Linked DNA regions of Homo sapiens: region 2 is linked to region 1. The links come from fine-mapping of genetic effects on gene expression. Tissue or cell type: whole blood. Region 1 holds a variant in brackets; the other region holds the start of a gene. All regions are shown on one strand. Distances are between the middles of the regions.

Evidence for each region. PIP is the estimated chance that this variant, and not a neighbour inherited with it, causes the effect.
Region 2: PAIP2B starts here. The variant in region 1 is fine-mapped to the expression of PAIP2B in whole blood (TOPMed, PIP above 0.99).

The regions. Positions count from the first base shown.
Region 1 is chr2:71,266,200-71,274,307 of GRCh38, forward strand. All of the region lies in intron 2 of LOC105374797 (a long non-coding RNA gene), which reads right to left. Among named protein-coding and RNA genes, the nearest start is that of PAIP2B, 43 kb to the left of the region's middle. The variant G/A (reference allele first, on the strand shown) is at 4,095.
Region 2 is chr2:71,222,521-71,230,628 of GRCh38, forward strand. PAIP2B (poly(A) binding protein interacting protein 2B) reads right to left here and starts at 4,583. Exons shown (of 4, transcript NM_020459.1): 1 at 4,408-4,583. RefSeq lists enhancers at 4,013-4,513, 4,729-4,868.

The sequences.
Region 1 (8,108 bases):
CGCCATTCTAACTGGTGTGAGGTGGTATCTCATTGTGGTTTTGATTTGCATTTCTCTGATGGCCAGTGATGATGAGCATTTTTTCATGCTTTTTGGCTGCATAAATGTCTTCTTTTGAGAAGTGTCTGTTCATATCCTTTGCCCACTTTTTGATGGGGTTGTTTTTTTCTTGTAAATTTGTTTGAGTTCATTGTAGACTCTGGATATTAGCCCTTTGTCAGATGAGTAGGTTGCAAAAATTTTCTCCCATTCTGTAGGTTGCCTGTTCACTCTGATGGTAGTTTCTTTTGCTGTGCAGAAGCTCTTTAGTTTAATTAGATCCCATTTGTCAATTTTGGCTTTTGTTGCCATTGCTTTTGGTATTTTAGACATGAAGTCCTTGCCCATGCCTATGTCCTGAATGGTATTGCCTAGGTTTTCTTCTAGGGTTTTTATGGTTTTAGGTCTAACATGTAAGTCTTTAATCCATCTTGAATTAATTTTTGTATAAGGTGTAAGGAAGGGATCCAGTTTCAGCTTTCTACATATGGCTAGCCAGTTTTCCCAGCACCATTTATTAAATAGGGAATCCTTTCCCCATCACTTGTTTTTGTCAGGTTTGTCAAAGATCAGATAGTTGTAGATACGTGGCATTATTTCTGAGGGCTCTGTTCTGTTCCATTGGTCTGTATCTCTGTTTTGGTACCAGTACCATGCTGCTTTGGTTACTGTAGCCTTGTAGTATAGTTTGAAGTCAGGTAGCGTGATGCCTCCAGCTTTGTTCTTTTGGCTTAGGATTGACTTGGCAATGCAGGCTCTTTTTTGGTTCCATATGAACTTTAAAGTACTTTTTTCCAATTCTGTGAAGAAAGTCATTGGTAGCTTGATGAGGATGGCATTGAATCTATAAATTACCTTGGGCAGTATGGCCATTTTCATGATATTGATTCTTCCTACCCATGAGCATGGAGTGTTCTTCCATTTGTTTGTATCCTTTTTTATTTCATTGAGCAGTGGTTTGTAGTTCTCCTTGAAGAGGTCCTTTGCATCCCTTGTAAGTTGGATTCCTAGGTATTTTATTCTCTTTGAAGCAATTGTGAATGGGATTTCACTCGTGAATTGGCTGTTTGTCTGTTATTGGTGTATAAGAATGCTTGTGATTTTTGCACATTGATTTTGTATCCTGAGACTTTGCTGAAGTTGCTTATCAGCTTAAGGAGATTTTGGGCTGAGACAACAGGGTTTTCTAGATATACAATCATGTCATCTGCAAACAGGGACAATTTGACTTCCTCTTTTCCTAATTGAATGCCCTTTATTTCCTTCTCCTGCCTGATTGCCCTGGCCAGAACTTCCAACACTACGTCGAATAGGAGTGGTGAGAGAGGGCATCCCTGTCTTGTGCCAGTTTTCAAAGGGAATGCTTCCAGTTTTTGTCAATTCAGTATGATATTGGCTGTGGGTTTGTCATAGATAGCTCTCATTATTTTGAGATACGTCCCATCAATACCTAGTTTATTGAGAGTTTTTAGCATGAAGGTTGTTGAATTTTGTCAAAGGCCTTTTCTGCATTTATTGAGATAATCATGTGGTTTTTGTTTCACTGTCTTGAACTCCTGGCTTCAAGTGATCCATCCACCTTAGCCTCCCAAACTGCTGCCACCATGCCCGGCCCTAATTTATTTCTTTGTCATAACAGATATTATTTCTATAATAGATTATTTGCATTATATAGTATATTGGTGTGTGTGTATATATATACACATATATACACATATATATACACATATACATACAGTATATTATATACTATAACCATATAGATATCAAGCAGACTAGATGCTACCATAGGAGAATTTTTTTAAATCTTGGGGATATGATAGCCTTTCTAGGAAAGAGTAAAAGCAACAACAAAAAACCCTAGAAAGTTAGAAAAAGTAATGTGACTATATGAAAATCAAAAATAATTCAGCCAGGCATGGTGGCTCATGCCTGTAATTCCAGCACTTTGGTAGGCCAAGGTGGGCCAATTGCTTGAGTCCAGGAGTTTGAGACCAACCTGGGCAACACTGCAAAACCTTGTCTCTACAAAAGATTAGCCTGGCATGGTGGCACATGCCTGTAGTCCCAGCTACCTGGAAGGCTGAGGAGGGATGATCACCTGAGCCCCTGAGGTTGAGGCTGCAGTGAGCTGTGGCTGCCACTACACTCCAGCCTGGGTGACAGAGTGAGACCCTGTTGCAATAATAATAATAATAATAATAATTCACTGCAAAAATACAGTAAACAAGCCAAAAGACAAAGGGGGTAAAAGATAAGTAATTTATTCATATTGGACTACTTTCATTATTTTATATATATATATATGCATGTATACATATCTATGCACTACAATTTTTAAAAAGACCAACAACTGAATAGAAAATTAAAAATTAAATTTGATAATGTACTGTATAGAGACGTGTTGAAACAGTGGTCCTGACAAATTGTTATGGGAGCCACAACTGACATGAACTATATATGGATATTAATTTGGTAACATATATGGAATGTTTTAAGTCCGTACCTTACAATATAGTCAATACATACATATATACATTTATAATTTTTCTTAACCCATGGAATGTCTTTGAAAGGATATGCAAGAAACTGGTCAACAGTGGTAGTCTAAGAGGAAAGAAAGCTGGGGGCAGGAGGCAGTGGAGGATGAAAACTGTCTTTTCACTGCATATATTTTTGACACAATTGAAAATTTTAACCATGTCATGCATATTATCTAGTCTTCTGTACAAAAAAAAAAGGAAAAGAAAATGACATGTGGATATAAGACTGAAAGATTTGAAAGCTGTTGCAAGATGGCCGATTAGAAGGAGCTGCAGTCCACAGCACTCACTGAAGGGAATGTAAAGGCGCGAGTGAATTCAGCACCTTCAACTTAAATATCCAGGTTCTTGCATTGGGACTAACTAGGCAAATAACTCTACCCACGGAGAATGAAGAAAAGCAGGGGGCAGGGGACGACACCCCATCTGGGAGCTACAGGGAGCCAAGGGAACCCCCATCCCCAGCCAAGGGAAGTAGTGAGTGATTGTGCGACCCTGCCTGGGAAACCACGCTTCTCTCACAGATCTTTGCAACCCCATGGATCAGGAGTTCCCCTCCTGAGCCCATGCCACCTGGGCCTTGGGTCCAAAGCAGAGAGCTGTGTGGAATCTTGGCAGAGCAGCAGCTGAGGCACACACAGAGACTAGGGAGTTTTACATACTCCAGCCCCGGGATCCCTGGCAAGGTGGGAAATCCCTCCCTACATCTCCTTGGGAAGGGGGCTGAATGCAGGAAGCCAATCAGCATCATTCTGTGGGTCCCACTTCCATCGTACCCCACAAGTTAAGACCCACTGGCTTGGAATTCCAGCCAGCCAATGGCAACAGGCTGGAATCTGCCTGAGATGGGTCTGGGTTCCAGAGAGGGAGGGGCGGCCGCCATCTCTGCAGTTCAGTAGCAGACTCAGCTGTTCCAGCCTAATGGCTTTGAAGAATACAAATAGTCCGAACGAGGAAGGGTCCTCCACAACGCAGCACAGCGGCCTTGCTAGATTGTGGTCTGACTGCTTCTTTAATCAGGACTCTGATCCATTCCTCCTCATTGGGCGGGATCTCCCTCCAGGGGCTTCAGACACTCCAGCCAGGGTTCTAAAATAGAACTCTCATCCCTCTTTGGGATGGAGCTCCCATGGGGAGGGGCAGCTGCCATCTCTGTGGTTTGGTTGACTCAGCCGTTCCAGCCTGCTGGCCAAAAGACTACAAATGATCTGGATGAGGAAGGGTCCCCCCAATGCAGTACACTTACTCTACCAAAAAGCAGCCAGACTGCTTCTTTTTTTTTTTTTTTTTTAAATGGAGTCTAGCTCTGTCACCAGGCTGGAGTGCAGTGGCGCAATTTCAGCTCACTGCAACCTCCACCTTCTGGGTTCAAGCGATTCTCCTGCCTCAGCCTCCTGAGTAGCTGGGATTACAGGCATGCACCACCATGCCGGGCTAATTTTTGTATTTTTAGTAGAGACAGGGTTTCACCATATTGGCCAGGATGGTCTCGATCTCCTGACCTCGTGATCC[G/A]CCCACCTCAGCCTCCCGAAGTGCTGGGATTACAGGCGTGAGCCACCGTGCCCGGCCCAGACTGCTTCTTTAAGCGGGTCCCTGATCCCGTTCCTCTTGACTGGGTGAGACCTCTCAACAGGGGTCTCCAGCCACCTCTTACAGGTATGTTGGGGCAGGCAACAGGTCAGTACTCCCCTGGGATGGAGCTTCCAGAGGAAGGAGCTGGTTGCCATCTTTGCTGTTTTGTATCCTTCACTGGTGATACTTCCAGGTATGGGAAAAACTGAGGCAACTAGGGTCTCGAGCAGACCCCCAGTAAACCACAGCAGCCCTTTGGTAGAGTGGCCTGGTTATTAAAAGTAAAACAAACAAACAAACAGAAAACAACAACAACATCAACAAAAAAGACTCCACAAAAACCCCATTCAAAGGCCAGCAACCTCAAAGATCGAAGGCAGATAAGCCCACAAAGATGAGAAAGAATCAATGCAAAAACACTGAAAACTCAAAAAGCCAGAATGCCTCTCCTCCAAATGACTACAACACCCTCCAGCAAGGGCACAGAACTGGGCTGAGGCTGAGATAACTGAATTGACAAAAGTAGGCTTCAGAAGGAGGGTAATAATGAACTTTGCTGAGCTAAAGGAGCATGTTGTAACCAATGCAAAGAAACTAAGATCGTGATAAAACAATACAGAAGCTGATAGCCAGAATAGCCAGTTTAGAGAGGATCATAACTGATCTTATGAAGCTGAAAAACACAACATAAGAACTTCACAATGCAACCACAAGTATCAATAGCAGAATAGCATGAAAAGGAATGAACAAAACCTCTGAGAAATATAGGATTATGTAAAGAGACCAAACGTATAAATGATTGGGGTACCTGAAAGAGATGGGGAGAATGGAACCAAGTTAGAAAACCAACTTCAGGATATCAACCAGGAGAACTTCTCCAACCTGGCAAGACAGGCCAACATTCAAATTCAGTAAATGCAGAGAGCCCCAGTAAAATACTCCATGAGACCATCAACCCCAAGATACATAATCATCAGATTCTCCAAGGTTGAAATTAAAGAAAAAATGTTAAGAGCAGCCAGGAGAAAGGCCAGATCATGGCTGGGCGCGGTGGCTCAAGCCTGTAATCCCAGCACTTTGGGAGGCCAAGGCGGGTGGATCACGAGGTCAGGAGATCGAGACCATCCTGGCTAACATGGTGAAACCCTGTCTCTACTAAAAATACAAAAAATTAGCTGGGTGTGGTGGCGGGCACCTGTAGTCCCAGCTACTTGGGAGGCTGAGGCAGGAGAATGGTGTGAACCCAGGAGATGGAGCTTGCAGTGAGCCGAGATTGCACCACTGTATTCTAGCCTGGGCAACAGAGCCAGACTCCATCTCAAAAAAAAAAAGAAAGCCAGATCACTTACAAAGGTGACCAGACTAACAGACTAACAGCTGACCTCTCAGCAGAAACCCTACAAGCCAGAAGAGATTGGGGGCCAATATTCAATATTCTTAAAGAAAAGAATTTCCAACCCAGAATTTCATATCCAACCAAAGTAAGCCTCATAAGTGAAGGAGAAATAAGATCCTTTTTAGACAAGCAAATGCTGAGGGAATTTGTCACCACCAGGCCTACCTTCCAAGAGCTCCTAAAGGAAGCCCTAAATATGGAAAGCAAAAACCATTACGAGCCACTACAAAAACACACTGAAATACACAGACCAGTGACACTATAAAGCAACCAGATAAACAAGGCTGCAAAATAACCAGCTAGCATCGTGATGACAGGATCAAATTCACATGTAACAATACTAATCTTAAATGTAAATGGGCTAAATGGCCCCAATTAAAAGACACAGAATGGCAAGCTGTATAAAGAGCAAGATCCATTGGTATGCTTTCTTCAAGAGATCCATCTCATGTGCAAAGACATACATAGGCTCAAAATAAAGGGATGGAGGAAAATTTACCAAGCAAATAGAAAACAGAAAAAGGCAAGGGTCGCAATCCTAGTTTCTGACTAAACAGACTTTAAACCAGTAAATGTCAAAAAAGACAAAGAAGAGCATTACATAATGGTAAAGGGTTCAATGCAACTAGAAGAGCTGACTATCCTAAATATATATGCACCCAATACAGGAGCACTCAGATTCATAAAGCAAGTTCTTAGAGACGTACAAAGAGACTTAAACTCCATGCGATAGTAATGGGAGACTTTAACACCCCACTGACAATATTAGACAGATCATTGAGAGAGAAAATTAACAAAGGTATTCAGGACCTGAACTCAGCTCTGGATCTAAAGGACCTGATAGATATCTACAAAACTCTCCACCCAAAAACAATAGAATATACATTCTTCTCAGTGCCACATGGCAGTTACTCTAAAATTGATCACACAATTGGAAGTAAAACACTTCTCAGCAAATGCAAGAGAACTGAAGTCATAACAGTCTCTCACACCATAACGCAATCAAATTAGCACTCAAAATTAAGAAATTCACTTCAAACCACACAACTACATGGAAATTGAACACCTGCTCCTGAATGACTCTTGGGTAAATAATAAAATTAGGCAGAAATCAATAAATTTTTTGAAACTAATGAGAACAAAGAGATGATGTACCAGAATCTCTGGGATGCAGCTAAAAGAGTGTTAAGAGGGAAATGTTTAGTGCTAAATGCCCACATCAAAAAGCTAGAAAGATCTCAAGTTAACAACCTAACATCTCAACTAAAAGAACTAGAGAACCAAGAGCAAAGAAACCCCAAAGCTAGCAGAAGACAAGAAATAACCAAGATCAGAGCTGAACTGAAGGAGATAGAGACATAAAAAACCTTCTAAAAAAAAAATCAATAAATCCAGGAGCTGGTTTTTGAAAAAATTAATAACACCACTAGCTAGATTAATAAAGAAGAAAAGAGAGAAGAATCAAATAAACACAATCAGAAAAGATAAGGGGGATATCACTGACCCCACAGAAATACAAACAACCATCAGAGAATACTATAAACACCTCTATGCACATAAACTAGGAGGTCTAGATGAAATGGATAAATTCCTGGACACATACACCCTCCCATGACTGAACCAGGAAGAAATTGAATCCCTGAATAGACCAATAACAAGTTGTGAAATTAAGGCAGTAATAAATAGCCTACGAACCCAAAAAAGCCCAGGACCAGATGGATTCACAGCTGAATTCTCCCAGAGGAACAAAGAAGAGCTGGTACCATTTCTACTGAAACAATTCCAAAAAATTGAAAAGGAGGGACTCCTCCCTAACTCATTCTATGAGGCCAGCATCATCCTGATACCAAAACCTGGCAGAGACACAACAAAAAAGGAAACATTGATGAACATCGATGCAAAAATCCTCAATAAAATACTGGCAAACTGGGCTGGGCATGGTGGCTCATGCCTGTAATCCCAGCACTTTGGGATGCCAAGACAGGCAGGTCACTTGAGGTCAGGAGTTCCAGACCAGCCTGGCCAACATGGCAAAACCCCATCTCCACTAAAAATGCAAAAAATTAGTCATACATGGTGGTGCACGTCTGTCATCCCAGCTACTCAGGAGGATGAAGCAGGAGAATCGCTTGAACCTGGGAGGTGGAGGCTGCAGTGAGCTGAGATTGCATCACTGCACTCCAGCCTCGGTGACAGAGCAAGACTCTTTCTCCAAAACAAAACAAAACAAAACAAAACAAAACAAAACAAAAAAAACTAGCAAACTGAATTCAGCAGCACTTCAAATAGCTTATCCACAACGATCAAGTAGGCTTCATCCCTGGGATGCAAGGTTGGTCCAACATACAAAAAACAATAAATGTGATTCAACACATAAACAGAACTAAAGACGAAAACTACACGCAGAAAGACCTTTGATAAAATTCAACATTCCTTCATGTTAAAAACTCTCAATAAACTAGGTATTGAAGAAACACCTCAAAATAATAAGAGCCATATATGACAAACCCATGGCCAATACCCTACCGAATGGGCAAAAGCTGGAAGCATTCCCTTGA
Region 2 (8,108 bases), 44 kb before region 1:
CAAATACTAAATACTGCTAAATTAATGTTCTGTGAAGTTTTGAAAGTACTAGGGCCAAGAGACAATATGGCTGCTTAGATGACTTTCCATCCAAGTTTACATTCAGCCCTCATCACCAAAGCTGATATGTGTGTGCCTCTTTCTTGCAACCCACCAGGGACTAACACATCATATACCACTTTTGGAATTAGGAAACAGGCTCAGAAGTCCAAGAGCTTGACCAAAGGAACTCAGTTGGTAGGTAGCAGAACCAGAATTCAAAGACCCAGGTCAGCATGATTCTTCTATAATATCCTGCCACTTACATGGGCAAGTGGCCTCAAAATCAACAAAAGACAAGTAGAGGTTGACATGTGACAATGGAGAGAGGCTCAAAAGGAAGTTTGTACACAAAAATACAAAAGGAAATGTTCTGGAAGTATGTCTGGGGATGTGAAGTAGGAGCAGGCACACCAGGTTTACCTTGGTCAAGTGAATCTATAATTCCAACCTGGGCCTTTCCCCAGAGCTCCTGACTTAGCTCTTATCTGTCTTTCTTAGGCAAATATAAAATCCACAGGGCAGGACCTTAATCTCCAGCTTGTTCACCACAGATTAAAGCAGAGTTTGAGGCTGGATGCAGAGGCTCACGCCTGTAATCCCAGCACTCGGGGAGGCCAAGATGGGTGGATTCCCTGAGGTCAGAATATCGAGACCAGCCTGGCCAACATGGTGAAACCCTGTTTCTACTAAAAATACAAAAATTCGTTGGGTGTGGTGGTGTGAGCCTATAATCCCAGCTACTTGGAGTCTGAGGCAGGAGGATTGCTTGACCCAGGATGCAGAGGTTGCAGTGAGCTGAAATCGTGCCATTGCACTCCAGCCTGGGTGACAAGAGCGAAACTCCATCTCAAAAACAAACAAACAAACAAAAACACAGACTTTTTTTTTTTTTTTGAAATGGAGTCTCACTCTGTCACCCAGGCTGGAGTGCAGTGGCACGATTCGGCTCACTGCAACCTCCACCTCTTGGGTTCAATAAATTCTCTGCCTCAGCCTCCTGAATAGCTGGGACTACAGGCTCCTGCCACCATGCCTGGCTAATTTTTTTGTATTTTTAGTAGAGACAGGGTTCCACCATCCTGGACAGGTTGGTATTGAACTCCTGACCTCGTGATCCACCTGCCTCAGCCTCCCAAAGTGCTGGGATTACAGGCATGAACCACCACGCTCAGCCGAGTCTGACTTATGGTAAGTGCTTAATATATGATAAATGAACAAACTGAATGAATGAATATATGATAACTGAATAAATTTATGAATAAATGTACAAACTATCAAATAAGCTAAAGAAATAGTCCACATTGTTGGGGAAAGGGGTTACCATGAAACAGACCCTAGCAGTCACTTACAAATACAGTTCATCTTCATTATTTGTGGATCCCATATTTGCAAATTTGCTTACTTGCTAAAATGTCTTTGTAATCCCCAAATACTTGTGGAGCTTTCAAGGTGACTTATGGATATACACATAGTAGTGAAAAATATGTCACTCCTTGCCCAAGTCCCAAGGTGACCCTCAGCCTTGTCTCAGCCCTCATACAAAGATGACCAGAGGACAGAGACAGCAGAGGGCAGTGCAGCGTAGTGCAAGAAGCTCTGGCTCTGGGGCCATCTGGACGAGTCTGAATCTTAACTCTGGCACCTGTTAGTAGAGAGGCCTCAGGCAAATCGCTTAACACTTCTGTACTTCCTTTATTTTTTGTAAGTAAGGAAAATTCAATCTACCAGGATGAGTTGTTTTTAGGAATTAATTTTGTAATCTGTGTGAGATATGTATATATGTATATATTTTCCCTGGGAACAAGGGTTGAATATTTGATAATTCAGTGTTCTTGGCAACTTTATAGAATATAACTACTGCAAATAATGAGAATTGACTATAATTATTTATAAAGAAATAACAGAGAAGTAGGCAAAACATTTGGATGAGGCAGAGGCAGGCTTCAAGATTTTGAAGAAACAGAATTTCACCAAGCACATAAGGTGTGGAAAAGGCTTGCAAGGAGAGAGAATGGTGCATACAGAGAGAGGTCCAGATGGTGGAAAAAAACAGGTAGGTTCAGGAAATGGCACTTCAGGAAGTCTAGAGCAGTAGGAGATGAGATCAGAACACAGTGCCATCGTGCTTCTCTGCACCCTGTATATACCTTCTACTGCAGAACCTCACTCTCTGCATTTAATTATTGGTTTCTAGTTCTCTCTTCCATTAAACTGTGAGCTCCTCAAGGTCTCTAAGAAGAAATCATAGCTAGAGTCCTCTAAATTTGCAAACAAGTTATTATTAAACACAAATACTCCCAAAAAAGACTGCACAAAAATAACTTTGGTTTTCAGCTGCAGTCACAGCAATTCACAACTGTTACAGATTTGCAATTTGTCCAGGATTTTTCTCTGATGACTGCTGTAACTCTGTCATAAACTCTTTTCCTTGTTTTAGACACCCAGACATTTGTTGGAACAGTTTTAAGATCTTACTCTTTTTAGTGTAATTGATTGATTGGTTGATTGACTGAGATGGGGTCTCACTATGTTGCCCAGGCTTGTCTTAAACTCCTAGGTTCAAGCAATCCTCCTGCCTCAGCCTCCTAAGTGGCTGGGATTACAGGCACACACCACTGTGCTAGGCTCTAGTGTGATTTATTAACAAGGCTTAAACATATGGTCCATTAGACAAGGCTGCCACCTCAGAGTAAAGATTTCTTTTAATTCACTATAATAGACTTTTTTCTTTATATACAAGATACAATTTTACCACAGTAAAATACAAGGAAGCATACTGATACATACATTACAAACAGGATAAAGAAAGCAATATAATTTTTTCCACAAAAGCTTGCAAAATCCTGGCCAAAACACAGTGAACATGATGTTAAACTCATAGCTTACATTTCTCCACTGAAAGCTAGGAAAAACAATTCCAATTTTTGAAAAGTCAGGAAACTAAGCACTGTGAGAATTTACAAGATTTTGTAAACCTGTATATTCTCCCCACCCCGATATACAAGTAGCCAGAGGAGCCTATCAGTCTTACCCCAACACTTCAATCTCCTCCAACCTTCAAAATAAAACCCTCACTGTCCAATATCTGAATTTATATTTTCAAACGTCTAAAATCTTAATCAAAGCTAAGAGCAGTGCATTAGCTTTTCCCCATAAAATTGTTGGCATAATTTTACTTAGGCACAGCATAGTTTGTACTGTTATCAAAAAACATATGGCTAGAACCGACATTACTAGAAACCAAACGAATATACTATGAAGGTGAAAAGGGAACAGGGAATGTTGTTTTTGGACAGATTCAATGCTGTTATTATCCCTTCATAGGTTGGGTGTGATCGAATCACACTGTGCTGTACAACTAAGTATGTTCTATATTTTATGACAAAGTAGGGTAGCCAGGCCCTTACACTACAAACTCCCAGAAACCCCAGTTAAGCTGTTTAAAGTATAATCCAATTCAATTTACTGAAAATAATAGTAACAAAATTTAAATCCCTTGCTTCTAGTTAGCCCTTTTCAACTGCATTTTCAGCAATTACCACCAAAAGAACTGCATTAGGACAAAGATTCTAGAGCGGGTATAATGGTCAAATGCCATTTGAAGGCAAAAACAGTCTACCAGGAACAAAACATTAAAGTTCCCAACCTTGCCAAACTCCCTGTTCTGCGTATTCTGCCTCTCTCAGTTCACCTTCCAGCTGCCTGGAAGAGGCAAGTGGAAAATGTTAGTTTTCTGGAGAGATGAGAATGGAATTTAGGGGTTGGTAGGGGGTGATGGGCTCACTCACGGACCGCAAGGCACAAGAGAAGTGGCGAACGTCTCCCAGGCAAATGAGGCATGAAGAATGAGGGCTGGAGTCAAGGGGGAGATGGAGCAAGTATAAAAAGGCAGAGGACGCGCAGGGGCCGCGAATAGGGGAAGGGCACGACGCGCAATCCCTCCCGCTCCAGCCCGGGGAGAGGGGCGGGGGATGCCGCGCGGGTCAATTTGCCTAGCATTGTTGCACCTGGGTAGAAATGGGACTCAGGCCAAGAATTCGGTTCGAGTGTTAGGAGGACGCTGAGGGGAGTCAGGAACTTGGGTGGGAGTCGGGGGGAAACAGAGCACCTGTGCGGGGGGGAAAGGGACGAAAACCCCCTATTGCTCCCGAGGGGCAGGGGCTGACCCCAGCGGACGCCCCTTTTCGCCGATGGCCGCGACGTGGGACCCCGCGCGCTTTCCCTCCCTACAGGAGCTCGGGCAGGCGCGTGCCGCCCTTCACAGCCCCGACGGCGGCAGAAAGGGAGGCGCAGGGCGCCCCCAGAGCCGGGAGAACGGCGTTTCCCTCGAGTCCTTTCCCCAGCAGCCCGGGCACCCGAGCCCACCTGGGCTAACCAGAAGCCCCTCCTTCAGATCGTACTCTGCCACTCCTCCGAGAGCTTAAGCCGTTGCCGTAGAGGTCGCCGTCGCCACAACAGTCTCGGCCTTTAGTACCAAAACGTGAAGCACAGCACCCGAGAAGCGCCACTACCACTTGCCAGGTTATCTCTTACTGCACACTGCCTCCTCGCCCCGCCCCCGAACCCAAGCCATTGGTTGCCGGGCACCGCCCCATTCGTCTATTGGGCCAAAGAAGATGCCGTTCGGTCACCTAGAATGGCATATGTGGTTTTTATTGGTCTAAATGTGAAGCAGTGCCCGCCCACTCCCTCAGAAGTTTCAGCTTCTGATTGGTTTTAATGTCTGTCTTTTCTCTTCCTTCATTTTTTTTTTCCTGTGGTGGAACACCTCCTTGAGGGAGATGCCGGCTCTGATTGGCTGAAAGGACGCTACGCTAGCCTGGGATAGGCATTGGGCCAAGGATGCGCCCGGCCCACTCGTGGGGGAGGAGACCAAGGCGCCGCACTCTGGGTTTGTTTACACAGGCTCTTGCTCCCGCTTCGTCTATTGGCTGAGCTGGAAGCCACTGCCACCGAGTTTTGCCTGTCAGCCTAGCAAGGAGGAGGGTGGGGGTGGGCCTCAGTAGGATTTCCCTCAGCTGTCAATTACCAAAGGAGGAGCTTTGATTCAGGCTGCTTTGGACCTGGTGCTATTCTCTGTAGGGAAAATTAAGGAATTGGGCTCCTTGGGAGGCTGGAAGGAAGCAAAGGGACGCTGGAAGGAAGCAGACGGATGCTTCCACGTTTCTAGAAACAAACCTAACTTCTTGAGTGCTTTAAAAAAATAAAACTTGGCCGGGCGCGGTGGCTCACGCCTGTAATCCCACCACTCTGGGAGGCCGAGACGGGCGGATCACAAGGTCAGGAGTTCTAGACCAGCCTCGCCAGTATGGTGAAACCCCGTCTCTACTAAAAATGCAAAAATTAGCTGGGCGTGGTGGCGGGCTCCTGTAGTCCCAGCTACTCGGGAGGCTGAGGCAGGAGAATCACTTGAACCCGGGAGGCAGAGGTTGCAGTGAGCCAAGATCGCACCACTGCACTCCAATCTGGGCAATAGAGTGAGGTTGCGACTCAAAAAAAAATACATCAATAAATACAAATTAAAATAAAACTTTATTGCCTCCCTTGGATTTAGAATGTCCAATCTGCTTGCAAAGGACTTCGAATTGTATTCCACAGGAAGTAGGGATTTCTTTGTGGAGCTCTTACTTTATACATTTTTCTCTCCCCCCCACCTCTCAAGCTGACTGTATACATGACACAAAGTTAGGGAATTGCAGAATGAATGGAAAAAATATAAAAATGAAAAAGATAAACTCAAATAACAATTATAAATATTAGCTGTATACTTTGATATGGTTTGGCTCTGTGTCCCCACCCAAATCTCATTTTGAATTATAATTCCCAATGTTGGGGGAGGGACTTGGTGGGAGGCGATTGGATCATGGGGGCAGATTTCCCCCTTGCTGTTCTCGTGATAGTGAGTGAGTTCTCACAAGGTCTGATGGTAAAAAAAGTGTGTGTCCTTCCCCCTTAGCTCTCTCTCCCTCTTGCTACCATGTGAAAACGTGCTTGCTTCCCCTTTGCCCTGATTGTAAGTTTCCTGAGGCCTCACCAGCCATGCCTCCTGTACAGCCTGAGGAACGGTGAGTCAATTAAACCTCTTTTCTTTATAAATTACTCAGTCTCAGGTAGTTCTTTATAGCAATGTGAGAATGGACTAATACATACTTCATATTAAATGATATAAGTAAATAAATAAATTCATTCAACAAGTATTATTTAGCATCTACTATGAATGTTCTAGGCTCTGATCATGGAACTGGGTATATGATATGAATAAGACAGTGAAGATGCACCCATGGTGTTTATACTGTAGTGAAGGAGACTGACAACAGAAAAGTAACCAATAAATAATAAAATGGTATGTTGTGAATAAATGCTACAAAGGAAAATAAAGCAGAGTCATGGGATGGTTGGGGAAATGGCTATTTTAAGTAGGATGGTTAGTTTAAGAGCTGTTTGAGGAAACAGCACTGAACAGAGATGTGAATAATGTGAAGAAGTGAAGAGTGGGAAGGGGCTAATAAGCAGAGCCACTACAGTGCACAACTCCAGGATCACTATTCACATTGCTCCATGTATTTTGAAGTTGTGTATTAGGTGTACATCCATTTAGGGCTGCCAACTCTGGTTTAAAGCTTTATTTGATTACATAATTTAAATGACGCCTGCAAGAAACATGTGTCTTTTAGAAAAAAAAAAATCTCTCTCTAGGATAGCATCCCCATACCCTCCACTGCTTCTTTCCCTGAATTGGCCTTCCGGTGTATGATGAGAGAAAGTTTACACAATCTCATAGGTTTGAAAAACAGGCTCTTCTGGTCCACGTGGTGTCCTTGAGCAGTCAGAAATACTCCTTGAGGATGAACCTTTATTACCAGGATAGCAATGGGATGTAAGGAAGGGTTGATGAACTTCTCTCGTCTCACTTCCTACCACTGGTGCCATCTATTATAAATTCATGGCTGGCTATTACCAGTGATAAAGAGAAAAGTCTTAAAAGCAGGCAGAAAAAAAATATGGCCATTTTAAGTAGAATGGTTAGTTTAAGAGCTGTTTGAGGAAAGACCATTGAACAGAGATGTGAAGAAGTGAAGAGCAGGAAGGGGCTGGGAAACATACAGAGGGGAAAAAATAGATAAGAATTACAGCAAATTTCTTATCAGAAACTATGGAAGCCAAAAGACAATGAAGGAATGAGGTAGCAATGTGGGTATCTGGTGGTGGTGGGCAGGGACAGATATGAGACAAAAACCAGTCATAAAGTTGTAGGAGATGATGTCAATGAGAGGGAGGGAGGCAAGAGAAGCCCATCACCCTTCCCCACATCCTATTGCTATTAGGGCAATAAATCTTCAACCTTGAAGATTACATCATTTCATTTTTTAAAATTTAATTGTGGTAAAATATATATAAAATTTACCATCTTAACTATTTTAAGTGTACAGTTCAGTTACAGTAAGTACATTCACATTTTTGTGCAATCATCACCACAATCCACCTGCAGAACATTTTCATCATTCCTAACAAAAATTCTGTACCCATTAAACACTAACTCCCCATTCTCCCCTTACCCCAGCCCCTGGAAATCACCATTCTGTTTTCTGTATCTGTGAATTTGACTGCTCTAGGTATCACGTGTAAGTGAAATTATGTAATATTTGTCCTTCTGTGTTTGGCTTTATGTCTCCCACGTTTAAGTATCAGAATTTCTTTTCTTTTTAAGGCTGAGTAGCATCATTATAGGTATATGTCCTATTTTGTTTATCAATTCATCCATTGATGGACATTTGGGTTGTTTCTATCTTTTGCCTATTGTGAATAATGTTGGTATGCAAATATCTGTTCAAGGGCCTGCTTTCAATTATTTTGGGTATATATTCTGAAGTAGAATTGTTAGGCCATATAGTAACTCTATGTTTAATTTTTTGAGGAACCACCGTACTGTTTTCCACAGTGGCTGCACCATTTTGCATTCCCGCCAACAATGTACGAAGTTTCCAATTTCTACACATCCTTGCCAACAGTAGTTTCTTTTCTGTTTTTTTTTTTTTTTTTTTTAAATAATAGCCATCCTAATGAGT